Regions from separate parts of the Homo sapiens genome. Here region 2 is reported to be linked to region 1. Evidence: microRNA targets listed by miRTarBase, many of them from high-throughput screens and not tested one by one. Region 1 holds a microRNA gene; the other region holds the end of a gene's coding sequence.

Evidence for each region. Region 1 holds the annotated microRNA hsa-miR-27b-3p (UUCACAGUGGCUAAGUUCUGC, at 3,823-3,843, opposite strand). A microRNA usually pairs through its seed, bases 2 to 8, with sites in the 3' UTR of a target mRNA and lowers its output. Matches are read on the target gene's strand: a 7mer-m8 pairs with bases 2 to 8, a 7mer-A1 pairs with bases 2 to 7 and ends in A, and an 8mer does both.
Region 2: miRTarBase lists ZFP36 as a target of hsa-miR-27b-3p. Seed matches in the 3' UTR shown: 7mer-A1 at 3,013-3,019.

The regions. Positions count from the first base shown.
Region 1 is chr9:95,081,769-95,089,347 of GRCh38, reverse strand. MIR27B (microRNA 27b) reads right to left here and starts at 3,903; the gene lies at 3,807-3,903. It overlaps AOPEP (aminopeptidase O (putative)), which reads right to left. Exons shown (of 17, transcript NM_001193329.3): 16 at 6,629-6,773; 17 at 2,189-2,666. The coding sequence ends at 6,633. It overlaps MIR23B (microRNA 23b), which reads right to left and starts at 4,140; the gene lies at 4,044-4,140. It overlaps MIR3074 (microRNA 3074), which reads left to right and starts at 3,254; the gene lies at 3,254-3,334. It also overlaps MIR24-1.
Region 2 is chr19:39,406,011-39,411,632 of GRCh38, forward strand. ZFP36 (ZFP36 ring finger protein) reads left to right here and starts at 837. Exons shown (of 2, transcript NM_003407.5): 1 at 837-918; 2 at 1,733-3,397. The coding sequence starts at 895. The coding sequence ends at 2,689. It overlaps MIR4530 (microRNA 4530), which reads right to left and starts at 3,668; the gene lies at 3,613-3,668. RefSeq lists silencers at 431-880, 3,671-3,730, 4,081-4,400 and enhancers at 1,001-1,200, 1,251-1,888, 1,889-2,527, 2,528-3,165, 3,428-4,018 and 1 more.

The DNA of each region.
Region 1 (7,579 bases):
TGGGCTAAGGCAGTGAGCGTTCTAGCCTCAGTTGTCACACGCCCTTTGATCTGAGCTAGTTTCTGATGTGATACTTCACTTAAAAATGGAAGAGTACTGGTCACATCTGTCTCCTACTGACCCCGAGACCCCGGTTTGCTCTCAGGCTGGAATCTAGAGGCCTCTCTGCCAGGCCCTGGGTGGAGGTTCTCTCAAGTCTCTTAGGAGATGCCAGAGGAGCAGCTAGCAGAACCCATTCAGAGTCAGCTGAGGCACGGGTGAAGGATGCCGGCGAGGGCAGTTGCAGAGCCTCGGGGAGCCTCCTGCCTGGAGAGAGTGGCGGAGCTGCTCTCCGGCTTCCTCCCTCCCTCACCTCCAGGGGCAGCCCCAGCACGGGCAGGGTGCCCCCAGGTCTGGAGGCAGCAAAGGCCGACTCCTGGCAGGACCTCAGTCAAATCCGTGACAGCAATGTCCGGTTCTGATGAGGTCCACCAAATTTATGCCACCCACTGGCCAGATCCCCGGTGGTCAAAGCAAGTCACAAGACCCGGTGACTCACAGGAGCCAGGGGATTAGTGGTCTTTGTGCAGAACCCCACCTATTCAGCAGTTCAGCTTTGCTTTAGTGGTTTCTAAAGAAGATAAAGCATGGCTTTCACTTTTTGGAAAAGCAAGGTCACCCCAAACCACTGGGCCGGTGAGCCACCCGCAGCTCTTGAGAGCTCCAGGTGCCAAGCATCTGCACACAGTGGGAGTGGGAGCCTCGCAGGGCAGTGCGGCCGGTACTCCCACGGTCCTTCCTGGCTCTGCCTCAGTGAAAGCCAAACACACTTAGAAAGCGCAGAGAGAGAGAGAGAGAGAGGCCGGGTACAGTGGTTCACGCCTATAATCCCGGCACTTTGGGAGGCCGAGGCAGGTGGATCACGTGAGGTCGGGAGTTCGAGACCAGCCTGACCAACGTGGTGAAACCCCATCTCCACTAAAAATACAAAATTAGCTGGGCATGGTGGCGGGAGCCTGTAATCCCAGCTACTCGGGAGGCTGGGGCAGGAGAATCGCTTGAACCCGGGAGGCGGAGGTTGCAGTGTACAGAGATCGTGCCATTGCATTCCAGCCTGCGCAACAAGAGTGAAACTGTCAAAAAAAAGAAAGGAAGGAAAAAAAAAAGGCAGCAGCACACAGAGAGAAAGCATCGTTCATTCTAAATCTCCACAGGAAGCCGCGGTCGTGTATTTATTCAAACATAACAGTCAAGTTCTGAGCCATCCTCCACGATGGCACAGCCAGCTATACAGTCCCACGCAAAGGCATGTGACAGCAGAGAGCAAATCCTAAGAACGTTCTGGAATCAGTCACTGGGACAAGAAAAGAGAGTTCTGGAGACCAAGGCCTCCCAGTCCAGAGCTTCTAATGAGATCCATGGTAGAGCCCCACTTCACCCCAAACAGGCCAGAATTTGTGCTGCCCCCTGGAGCCAGGCAGAGGAGACTGTGGGTGTGTTCAGGTGCACTCATGCTCAGCCCAACTTGGCACAGGGCCCATGGCTGCACCCGTTCCTACAGCCTTCTCCAGGCATTTTCAAACATTCTGCCCCATGGACAGTGCCAAGGAAGCTCAGTGCCCAGCTTCTGTCTATACCCTAAACCTTGTGGAGAAAGAAAAATCATACCACCAGACTCCCACGATGCCTGAATATGCCCAGGCTCTCCATTTTATCGGAAGAGGGTGCCCCACGCGCAGCCAAATTACTTTTGTTTTCAGGCTTCTAAGAGAACTAACACTACCTTGAAAACAACAAAGAAACTAGTGAGGTGGGGGGGGAACACCAGAATGTGGAGAATACCTTTTTCTTGTACGTGCTTTTTTTTTTTTTTTTTTTTTTTTTTTGAGATGGAGTCTTGCTCTGTCGCCCAGGCTGGAGTGCAGTGGCGCAATCTCGGCTCACTGCAACTGCCACCTCCTGGGTTCAAGCGATTCTCCTGCCTCAGTCTCCCGAGTAGCTGGGATTACAGGTGCCCACCACCACGCCCGCCTAATTTTTTGTATTTTAGTAGAGACAGGGTTTCACCATGTTAGCCAGGATGGTCTCGATCTCCTGACCTCGTGATCCACCCACCTCGGCCTCCCAAAGTGCTGGGATTATAGGCATGAGCCACCGCACCTGGCCTTTATTATTTTTAAACAGTATGAAATTTAGAAGCAAACACGTATACAAAAAAAAAATCCATTACATTTATTAATAATATATCTTAGATTCTCATCCTGTTCTTTTAAATGGCGCCCACTGGTCTCATACAGAGGAGCTGTGTGACTTTCTGGAATTATAGAAATATCCGCATCCAGCCATGTGCTGAGCAGACCAATGTAAAATGTTCAGCAGGTTTTCCAATGTCTCTTGGATATATTTAATCATCTCTGCAGAAGAACTCAAAATCTCAGAGCAGCTCCACTCCAGATCCAGGGCAGGAGGCAGCCTCCAGGGAGGGAGGCTGCGTTTACGAGAATCTGCCTTTTGTGTGTGCCTGGCTGGGACCAGCCTCTGGGAAAGAGAAGCACCAAGATGTGAACAGGGCTGTGGGCCGATGGCTTTAGCAGCCACATAATCCCTCCTTTGATGTCCAGGGTCAGTTCGAGCCTGGTCCCCCAGGCTAGGAGGAGACGAATGAAAGAATCTTGCTGTGGTCTTTCCTGCAAAGGAAACAGCAGTAACATTGATTACCCAGTCACCGGGAGGAATTCTTGTGAGCGCGCACCTCTGTGTGCCTTTGCTCTCCACTTTCAAGAGAGGACTTTAATCACAGGACAAGGAGAAGACCCAGGCCCATTTCAGTCTCCGGGACGGGTCACAGCGAGCCGTGTGACGCTGGCCTGCTCACACGTGGCCATGACACCAGCAGGCTGTACTCAGGCTTTGCGTACACAATAGCTGCTAGGAGTACCCATTTCAGACACGCACCCACTCTAACTGTTCTCAGAAAGTCTCAGCTCACCTCGCCGTGGGAGAGCTGGGCCCTGCCTCCCTTACACATGGGGGCAAACGGCCCCCTGCTGGCACTGTGTCCTGCCTTCAGGCCTGGGAGCTCTTAACTTTCTGCCAACAGGGTTTTCCAAGTCTACAAACCCCCACGCCGCAGGAGCACATGCAGATGACTGGCACCGTGCTGCCGCCGGGCCGGGGTGGACGCAGGGTGGACGCGGGCCTGTCTGCCGCGAGTGGGAGCCCCAGCTCTCCTGAGCCTCGGGCACTTACAGACACGAAGGCTTTTTGCTCAAGGGCTCGACTCCTGTTCCTGCTGAACTGAGCCAGTGTGTAAAATGAGAACTGATATCAGCTCAGTAGGCACCGGAGGGCGGGTCCAATCGACAGCCCGGAGAAGCAGCGCCTCAGCTGGGAGCTCCGTGGGCACCGTCTGCTGGCGCAGGAGACGCGAAGGCCTGGACTGCAAATACAAGAGAGAGTTCACCGCGCCCAGAACAACAGGAGCTCCTCCGAAAGCCCCGCCCCGCCCCGCTCACAGCCATGAGCTACCACATGATTTCACACGACTTAGGTGATGCATTTGGTTTTAGTTTTTTGTAAGAAGAATTTTTGCAACTTTCAATACATTTGACCTTTCAGACAGATGTCCGATTAGTGCATGTTTCTGTGGACAGACTTAAGGACTCAGTACATGGCTAGCATTCCCAGCAGGAGACAGTGCATCCTTGGGGTCAAGTGGTCTCTCATCCTCCAGGATCGCGCTCCGCACCCAAGCTGACTGTGCAGCAGCGGCCGGCCCGTCAGCAACGGCCTCTGCCCCAGCGGCTCCAACTTAACTGTCCCCATCTCACCTTCTCTTCAGGTGCAGAACTTAGCCACTGTGAACAAAGCGGAAACCAATCACTGTTCACCAATCAGCTAAGCTCTGCACCTTGTTAGAGAGGTCATCGCTGGGCATAAATAAAGGGACGGTGACCGGTGAGCATCTTCCTCAGCTGGTGGCTTCTTTTGTTTCCAAAGAAGAGCTACGAGATGCACCTGTTCTCCAATCTGCAGTGAGCGCGACCACGGTTTCTGGAGGAGCAGCCAAGGTCGTGGTTGCGTGGTAATCCCTGGCAATGTGATTTTAATCTTAAGTCACAAATCAGCATGCCAGGAACCCAAGCAGCCAGAGCACCTGAGAGCAGCGCCACCCCGTGCTGTCTGCACACACTGGGCTTCCGCGGAAGGACGCCGGCGACACTGCCGCCTTCACGCCTGTTATGCTAGCAAACAGGTGGAGTTTCTGTTTGTTGTTCGTTTAGTTGGCATCCTAGAGGTATAATTTCTTGAATCAAAGGGACTCCAGAGATGACCATAAAAATGCCAGTGCAGCTTTGGAACTGAAGAAAAATGCAGGGACCGGCCATGCGACACACACAATTGCTAAAGGCAGCTGTCCTTGCTATTAGTTTACTGCCTCTAACCCTTGGGGACAAGATCCCTTCTCTCCAGGCAGATTCTAGCTGCCCTGGGAAGGCTTTGGGGACTCTCAAGTCAGGAGGTCCCCCTGCTGGAAGGGGCCCTGGGACAATCCCGGCCACTGTTCCTCACGGGGACTGGTTGGGGGGCAGGCTTGCAACCCCTGGATGCATCTGGAGGGGTGGGGACAGGATCGAAGATGCTGGGGAGGGGGAAAAGGGAGACTTGTGACCAAGATGACTCCTTTGCCTGCCTGGGCAAAAATTCCCCATAAAGAGTGGCGAGGGGTGTGCCCTGTGGTGCTGCTCCAAAACCTGCACCAAAGGGAATGATGAAAGGACTAGCTGGCCTTGTAGTTTCACACACTTTAACACGTACGCCACGAAATAACAAAACGAAAGAGAAACACCATTTACACTGATTACTATTATGAGGCCGGCAGTGAGGTAAGTGCACAGTCTGTGTGCCGCCAGCCCGTCCTGGAGGGGAGCCGCGTCAAGTCTGCAGCAGGCGTTTCGCTACGAGACGCTCAGTCCCGTTTCCCTTTCCTGGCACACATGGTTCCTGACTCTTCTGGAAGAATATGATCATGCTTCTGAAAAACTTTTTATTTCTTTTCATTATTAGAGTTCTTTCAGATAAATAAGCTACTTAAACACGTTACACAGAAATGGTTTTCATAAGCACAAAACATTAGAAGAAAACTCAATGTTCAAAACTGAGTGAAGAATATCAACACCAAATATTCAATATCCATGAAAAATTATAGAGAAGCTATAACACGAAAAATGCTTCAGATTTGATAAAGTTTTTTTAAAGATACAAAATTAGACATCCCCTATTAATATCATATAAAACACTGAAGAAAAACGGAGCAGACACAGAAATAATGATGATTGTTAGAGAAAAAAAATCTCACAGCTATCCTAACAAAACCTTGTGTACTACCGCTAGGTTGCTTTAATAGTGTAGAAACCCATACTGAGCAACTAACTGCTAGGAAGTAAATCTAACAGGTTAATTCCAGGCACAATTAACAGAGGAAGTGATTTAAATAATCTAGGACTCCAATAGAAGCCAGGGGAGAAATTCCGCTCCAACACAACAAAGCAAAAAGTAGGACCTGCCCTCAAGACACAGGGTCATGGAGGCCATATGCCACGTGTGCTGTGTGCGCCGCGGGTGCTGTGTGGTGCGTGCACTGTGTGTGCCACATGTGCTCTGTGTGGTGCGTGCGGTGTGTGCTGTGTGTGCCGCAGGTGCTCTGTGTGGTGCACGCGCTGTGTGTGGTGTGTGTGCTGCATGCAGTGTGCGCGCTACGTGTGGTGCATGTGCTGTGTGTGCTCTGTGTTGTGCATGCGCTGTGTGTGGTGTGTGTGCCGCGTGTACTCTGCGTGGTGTGTGTGCTGTGGGTGCTCCAGGTGCTCTGTGTGGTGTGTGTGCTGCGTGTGCCGCGTGTGCTCTGTGTGGTGCGTGCGCTGTTTGGTGTGTATGCTGCATGTGCCGTGTGTGCTCTGCGTGGTGCGTGCGCTGTGTGTGCTGTGTGTGCCGCGTGTGCTCTGTGTGGTGCGTGCGCTGTGTGGTGTGTGCTGTGCGTGCTCTGTGTGGTGCGTCCTCTGGTGTGTGTGTGCTGCATGCAGTGTGTGTGCTACGTGTGGTGCATGTGCTGTGTGTGCTGCGTGTGCCTGGAGAGCCTCCTGCCAGCCGATGACCAGGCGTGGACAGCCCAAGGAACCTCCAATTCACACATGGCTAGAAGAAAACATCTGCTTGCAGAAGCTAGGCTTTGGAGTCACACGGCCGCTTAAACTCCTGTATCAGCCGTGACCCTGAAGACTGGACCAGCGCTTCTGCCAGGCTTCCCATTCCATCTCTAAACCTACTCAAGATGTTCCCCCACAATTTTTGTTTCAACAGATTATAAAACCTGAAGTGGCCAAAATAGTGCCAAGGAGTGCCGCTGTGCCTCCAGGTGGACAGCCTCTGCTTCCCGGTGACTGCCACAGCCAGGCAAGGTGCTCCAGGGACCCGGGGCTCCCATACCAGCCCAGCACCCACTTGGCCAGTTACTCTCCAGGCCCTGGGCCAGGGAGCCGACTATTGATGCTGCGGGTAGTCTTGGCTAACTATTCGGCTTACTGATTTAGTTGGCTCCTAAAAGGAGTATCTGGTTAGAACTAAATGACAGAAAGGAAAGGGAGAGAATCACCTCGTTAAAATAACATTTCGGCCACCACCTGGGCTGAGGACCTATCCATCTGCTCCTTGGTCCGCTCGAAGCACCTACGGGCGAGCTGCTGCTGTCTGGCGTCCTCACTCACCATCAGCTCCCCGTAGAGGTACACACCCATGGCCTGCAGGGCACAGAGGCCAAAGGGCATCAGGCGAAGGTGTGGGTACCCACACACACGCACACATGAGCTCAGTCTGTGCTTGTTCCACACACACTTGCTGGTCTAGAAATTGCAAAGACCCCAGAGAAGACAGAGGCCGTGGGCTGACTGTGCTTTTGGAAGCTGCAGTCTGCAATCCCTGTCTCCTCCTTGTACTCAAAACCCCAAGGAATCCTCAGCTCCCAATTCTCTACACAGACTCTGACGATTTCACTGGTGACAGAACGATGAGCAGGCATTCCCACCATGATGGCCGTGTCAGGAACGCTCTGAACAGACAGAGATGGTTCCCAGAATTACCACGCGGAGAGCCTGTGTGGCATTACAGACACGGGACTCCTGCCCCGCAAAGTGTGTCCCTAGGAGTAGCTGGTCTGAGCTCATCCGGGAAGTCCTTCACCTGCCAGGGAAGCAAAGAGCACAGCAGGCAGCAGCCGCGGCAGAGACACATCACGATGCCCGCAGAGACGCCCACCCCGCCTGCGCCCTTTCCTCCACAGCCCTGCACCGTAGCCCGCACCGGCTCTGCTGCTTGGGAACAATGCCGCAAACACTCACATCTGCATTTTTCCTGTATTTTTAAAATAGCCAAGGACGTTCTAGAAGACCCAAGGGCCCATCTGGATCTGTCTACTCTCTTGTGCCATGCTTAGTTATGCCACGAGTTACATTCCGCTGGAGTAAACTAAAAGAAGGGTCTCAAAGACATCGCAAGAGCAAAACTTCGTAGTTAAGGGTTCAAAAGTGCTTTCCCAAAAAAGTCCAGA
Region 2 (5,622 bases), not on the chromosome of region 1:
ATCTTGAACTCCTGATCTCAGGTAATCCACCTGCCTCATCCTCTGAAAGTACTGGGATTGGCCGGGCTTGGTGGCTCACACCTGTAATTCCAGCTCTTTGGGAGGCGGAGGTGGGAGGATCGCTTGAGCCCCGGAGCTGGAGATTAGCCTGGGCAACATAGGGAAACCCCGTCTTTCAAAAAAAAAAAAAAAGAAGAAGAAAAAGGAAAGAAAAACACAAAAAGTGCTGGGATCACAGGTGTGAGCCACTGCGCTCAGCCCCTTTCTGTTTCTTTTTGTGATCCTCCCAACCCTCTTCTCCCTCTGAATCTGTCTCTGGGACTGTCTCTGTCTCCCCGTCTTCCCTCCCTTCCTCACCCTGTCTATCTCTCTCTGTATGTCTCTTGGTGTGTGTGTCTCTCTCGATGTTTTTCTCTCTGCCTGTCTGCCTGTCTGTACCCCTCTGCGTCTCTCCCCGCCCCCATCCGTCTGTGTCGCACGCGCACCCCCATCGGGCTTCTGCTCTTGTCAATTGCCCCTGGGGCCCTGCCCCCACCTCCGCCCCAGTTTCCTTCTACAAGCCTCAGTCTCCAGCTTTGAAAACTGGGCAGGCGTCCCCCCATCCGCACCCCCACCCCTTCCCCACGCATTCCCCGCTCGGTCACGGCTGTCCACCGGCCAAGCTCAGGCGCGTCCTGGCCCAGGGCCGGGCGGAAGGGAACCAGTCCAGGGCCAGCCAGGCTGCGCCGGGGGCGCGCGTCCGGGAAGCGCCCCTCCTGCCCCGCCCCCGGCCCCGGCCCCGGCCCCGCCCCGTGCTTGCAGTTTCCTATAAGTAGCCGGCTCTCGGTGCCAGCCTCAGCCTGACTTCAGCGCTCCCACTCTCGGCCGACACCCCTCATGGCCAACCGTTACACCATGGATCTGACTGCCATCTACGAGGTGAGTCCCCGCCGCACGGCATCCCCGGTACCTGCATGCCTGAGTCCGAGTCCCCACCTCTCTAGCGCCGCAAACTCCAGCCCGGGACGCTTGCCTCCCTTCTCCAACTGGGGCTCCCTAGCGCCGCGCCCTCCAGCCTGGGGCCCCTGCCTCCCGCTCAGACCAGCTTGGTGATTTGGAGGTGAAAATGGAACCCGCGACACCCGGCTCTTCGCTCAAACATGGGTGGGGCGGCCCATGCAAGTGGAAAGTCGGAGAACTTTTCTCAGACCGAGGCTGCCTGGAGGCGGAAGTGGCCCCCATACCTGGCTCACCCCTAGTCGTTGCTGAGGGCGTGGTTTTGCGCGGAGGCGTCTCTGGGGCTGAAGTCTCAGGGTGGGGGGATCCGACTTCTGTCTCTCCAGTCCCTGACCGTAGAGACAGAGAACCCTAAAACCGAAGCAATCCGGACTTCCAGGTCAACTTTGCCCGGTTTCTCCAGTTGTGAAACTGGAGATCCCGACGCGTGGGTCATATCCGGGGAGGACAAGAGACCCAAAATTGGGAAACAGTGGTGCGCCCTGACTTCGGGGTCCCCCTCTTGGTCCAGCCGGGGAAGCCGGGATTCCTGGGTCCCTCGGGATAAGGCCTCGGTGGTGGGTAAACTCAGAACCTCCAACTCTGGGTTCCTGGCATCCGGAACCCAGGGGTTTCTGCGGGCGGGTGGGGCTCAGGCGGGGAGCCCACAAACCGGCCTGGCAAGCTCTAGTTCCCTGCAGCTGGGGTGGGGCGTCGCCCTGCATTTTCAGGTGCCTTAACCGACCCATTTCCGCAGAGCCTCCTGTCGCTGAGCCCTGACGTGCCCGTGCCATCCGACCATGGAGGGACTGAGTCCAGCCCAGGCTGGGGCTCCTCGGGACCCTGGAGCCTGAGCCCCTCCGACTCCAGCCCGTCTGGGGTCACCTCCCGCCTGCCTGGCCGCTCCACCAGCCTAGTGGAGGGCCGCAGCTGTGGCTGGGTGCCCCCACCCCCTGGCTTCGCACCGCTGGCTCCCCGCCTGGGCCCTGAGCTGTCACCCTCACCCACTTCGCCCACTGCAACCTCCACCACCCCCTCGCGCTACAAGACTGAGCTATGTCGGACCTTCTCAGAGAGTGGGCGCTGCCGCTACGGGGCCAAGTGCCAGTTTGCCCATGGCCTGGGCGAGCTGCGCCAGGCCAATCGCCACCCCAAATACAAGACGGAACTCTGTCACAAGTTCTACCTCCAGGGCCGCTGCCCCTACGGCTCTCGCTGCCACTTCATCCACAACCCTAGCGAAGACCTGGCGGCCCCGGGCCACCCTCCTGTGCTTCGCCAGAGCATCAGCTTCTCCGGCCTGCCCTCTGGCCGCCGGACCTCACCACCACCACCAGGCCTGGCCGGCCCTTCCCTGTCCTCCAGCTCCTTCTCGCCCTCCAGCTCCCCACCACCACCTGGGGACCTTCCACTGTCACCCTCTGCCTTCTCTGCTGCCCCTGGCACCCCCCTGGCTCGAAGAGACCCCACCCCAGTCTGTTGCCCCTCCTGCCGAAGGGCCACTCCTATCAGCGTCTGGGGGCCCTTGGGTGGCCTGGTTCGGACCCCCTCTGTACAGTCCCTGGGATCCGACCCTGATGAATATGCCAGCAGCGGCAGCAGCCTGGGGGGCTCTGACTCTCCCGTCTTCGAGGCGGGAGTTTTTGCACCACCCCAGCCCGTGGCAGCCCCCCGGCGACTCCCCATCTTCAATCGCATCTCTGTTTCTGAGTGACAAAGTGACTGCCCGGTCAGATCAGCTGGATCTCAGCGGGGAGCCACGTCTCTTGCACTGTGGTCTCTGCATGGACCCCAGGGCTGTGGGGACTTGGGGGACAGTAATCAAGTAATCCCCTTTTCCAGAATGCATTAACCCACTCCCCTGACCTCACGCTGGGGCAGGTCCCCAAGTGTGCAAGCTCAGTATTCATGATGGTGGGGGATGGAGTGTCTTCCGAGGTTCTTGGGGGAAAAAAAATTGTAGCATATTTAAGGGAGGCAATGAACCCTCTCCCCCACCTCTTCCCTGCCCAAATCTGTCTCCTAGAATCTTATGTGCTGTGAATAATAGGCCTTCACTGCCCCTCCAGTTTTTATAGACCTGAGGTTCCAGTGTCTCCTGGTAACTGGAACCTCTCCTGAGGGGGAATCCTGGTGCTCAAATTACCCTCCAAAAGCAAGTAGCCAAAGCCGTTGCCAAACCCCACCCATAAATCAATGGGCCCTTTATTTATGACGACTTTATTTATTCTAATATGATTTTATAGTATTTATATATATTGGGTCGTCTGCTTCCCTTGTATTTTTCTTCCTTTTTTTGTAATATTGAAAACGACGATATAATTATTATAAGTAGACTATAATATATTTAGTAATATATATTATTACCTTAAAAGTCTATTTTTGTGTTTTGGGCATTTTTAAATAAACAATCTGAGTGTAAGCTGGGATCCTGGCTTCTTCGCGGTCTAGAGACAGGAATGGAGAGGGAGGGGGTGACTTTTTGGAAGCTGGGTGCAGTTAACTCTTCCTCTCCGAGCCCCGCGGCGCTTACCTGGCAGGAAGTGACGTCACCGGGCCTGGCCGTTCACCTGAAAGGGTGGGACCAGGTGAGGTCACCAGATGGGAACCGGGGGAGCCAGTTCCCGGGCGTCGGGGGCGCCGCGCTCCCGTCCTGCTGGGCTCCTTGACCCAGCTTCGGGCGGGTGCGGTCGGGGACGGGATGTTTCCGTCCCCACGGGGCCGCGGGAGGCGGGAGGGGCCGGGTGGGGAGGACGGAATGTGCTGGGGCGCGCGCCCAGAGCGAGCGGGGGCGGGCGCGGGGCGGGGCAGCCTGGGGTAGCGGAACCCGTTTCGGGACTAGAGGTTCCGGGGGGGCTTCGACACCTTCTGGATGTTGGGGAAGCGGGTTTAGGGTCTCAAGAGGCTAGGATCTCAACATTTGGGAGTCACAGGTTGCATCCCCTAGCGCTTTAGACTCTAGACCCCTGGTGGCTCGGAGTTGCAGATTTCTGGCCACCCGGGACCCTGGAGCCCGGGAATTACCGGGTCTTGGCATTTCCGAACCTTGGAAGTCCGAGGCTTCGCACACCGACCAGGGTCGGCCCCGCGAGGCCAGGGCGTGTGGGTAGGGGCCGCGCGTCTAGGAGGGGCCCCGGGGGAGCCGCGTCTTCAGACCATACAAGGCCAGCGTCGTCGGGACCAACCCCGGGGCCCCGCGCCCGGAAGCCGCCCTGCGTCAGCGCCTGCGGCTCGGCCCTGCCGCCCAGCCTTCGCCCCCTGCGACCCCTCTTTTTTCTCCTTGCCCCGCACTCCTCCCTCCTCCCTCTCACTTCCCTCTTCTCTCCTTTCCCTACCCTCACCCTTCCTCCTCTTTTTCACTTCCTCCTCTGCACCCTTCTGCCCCGCCCTACACCCTTTGCCTTCTGTTCTTCTCTCCCCCTCCAATTTGTCCCCTCCCTCATTACTCCTCTCCCACTTCCAGCCTCCCCATCCTGCCGTCTCTTACCCCCTTTCTCCTCCTTCCCGTCTCCCTTCTCTCCCTTTTTCCGTCCTTCTTTCCCTCTCCACCCTTTCCTTGCCCTCCCACTCCCCATTGTCCTCTTCCCCTCCTCCCCCTAGCCTTACTCCTTCTCCTCTTCTCTCTCCCTCTGAAGCCCCTTTCCCTCCTCTCCCTTCTCTCTACCCTCCTCAAGCCTCCCTCCTGCTCTCAGGCCTCCTTGGCCCACTCCCCTTGCTCACTGACATTTGGTCTCCTCTTCCAGGAAACTGCTTCCCTTGTGGGAAAGGGCTCAGGCCCTAATAAGTAGAAGAGGATCAGGCGAGAGGGAGTCAGAACCCCTGAGATGCAAAGGCAGCAGAGGGGCAGAGACCAAGAGCAAGCAGTGAAGAGACATTTGCAGAAACAGTCTTGGAGACTGAAAGAACAACATCTCTGGTCCTTCCTTTAGCCAGATCTGATTCTCTGCCCCTTCCCCAAAAAATCCCTCATATAAGAAAACGGCACTTCTCACCATCTACCAGGGCTTAAGCCAGACACCCAGGAGTATCCCTTGACACCTTGTTCTCAAATCCACACCCCAGTCCAACAGCAATCCTGTCTGATCCACCTGCAAAATAGATCCACTATCCACCTGCCCCCACCATGACCCCCACCCTGGTCCTAGCCAACATCGTCTGCCATTTGCATCTTCATAGCAGCCCCAGCCCCAGTCTCTGCTCTAGCCCCTGCCTTCAGTCTCTCCTTTCTCCACTCCCCCACGAGACAACCAAAGGAAGCCTGTTATGAGACCTGAGTCAGGTCACATAAAAGTCAAAGTCCGAAGTCCTCCCCACAGCCCACACAATCTGGCACCCATCGCTTACCCTCCCCCTTGGCCACTCTGCTCCAGCCACACTGGCCTCCTAGCTGCTCTACCAAGTCTGGTCTGCTTCATCCATAGGAGCTTTGCACTAGCTGTTCCCTCTGCCTGAACACTCCCCTGGTGTCCCCATGGCTCACTCCCCTCCTTCATGTCTCTGCTCAAAAGTTGCCTTCTCTGTGAGATCCTCCCTGACCACTGCTGTTGCAATCCACACCCCACCTCCAACTACCCCATCCTCCCTACCTTGCTCGACTTTTTCCATGACATTTATCATCACCACCTAACATTAAAATGTACTTAATTC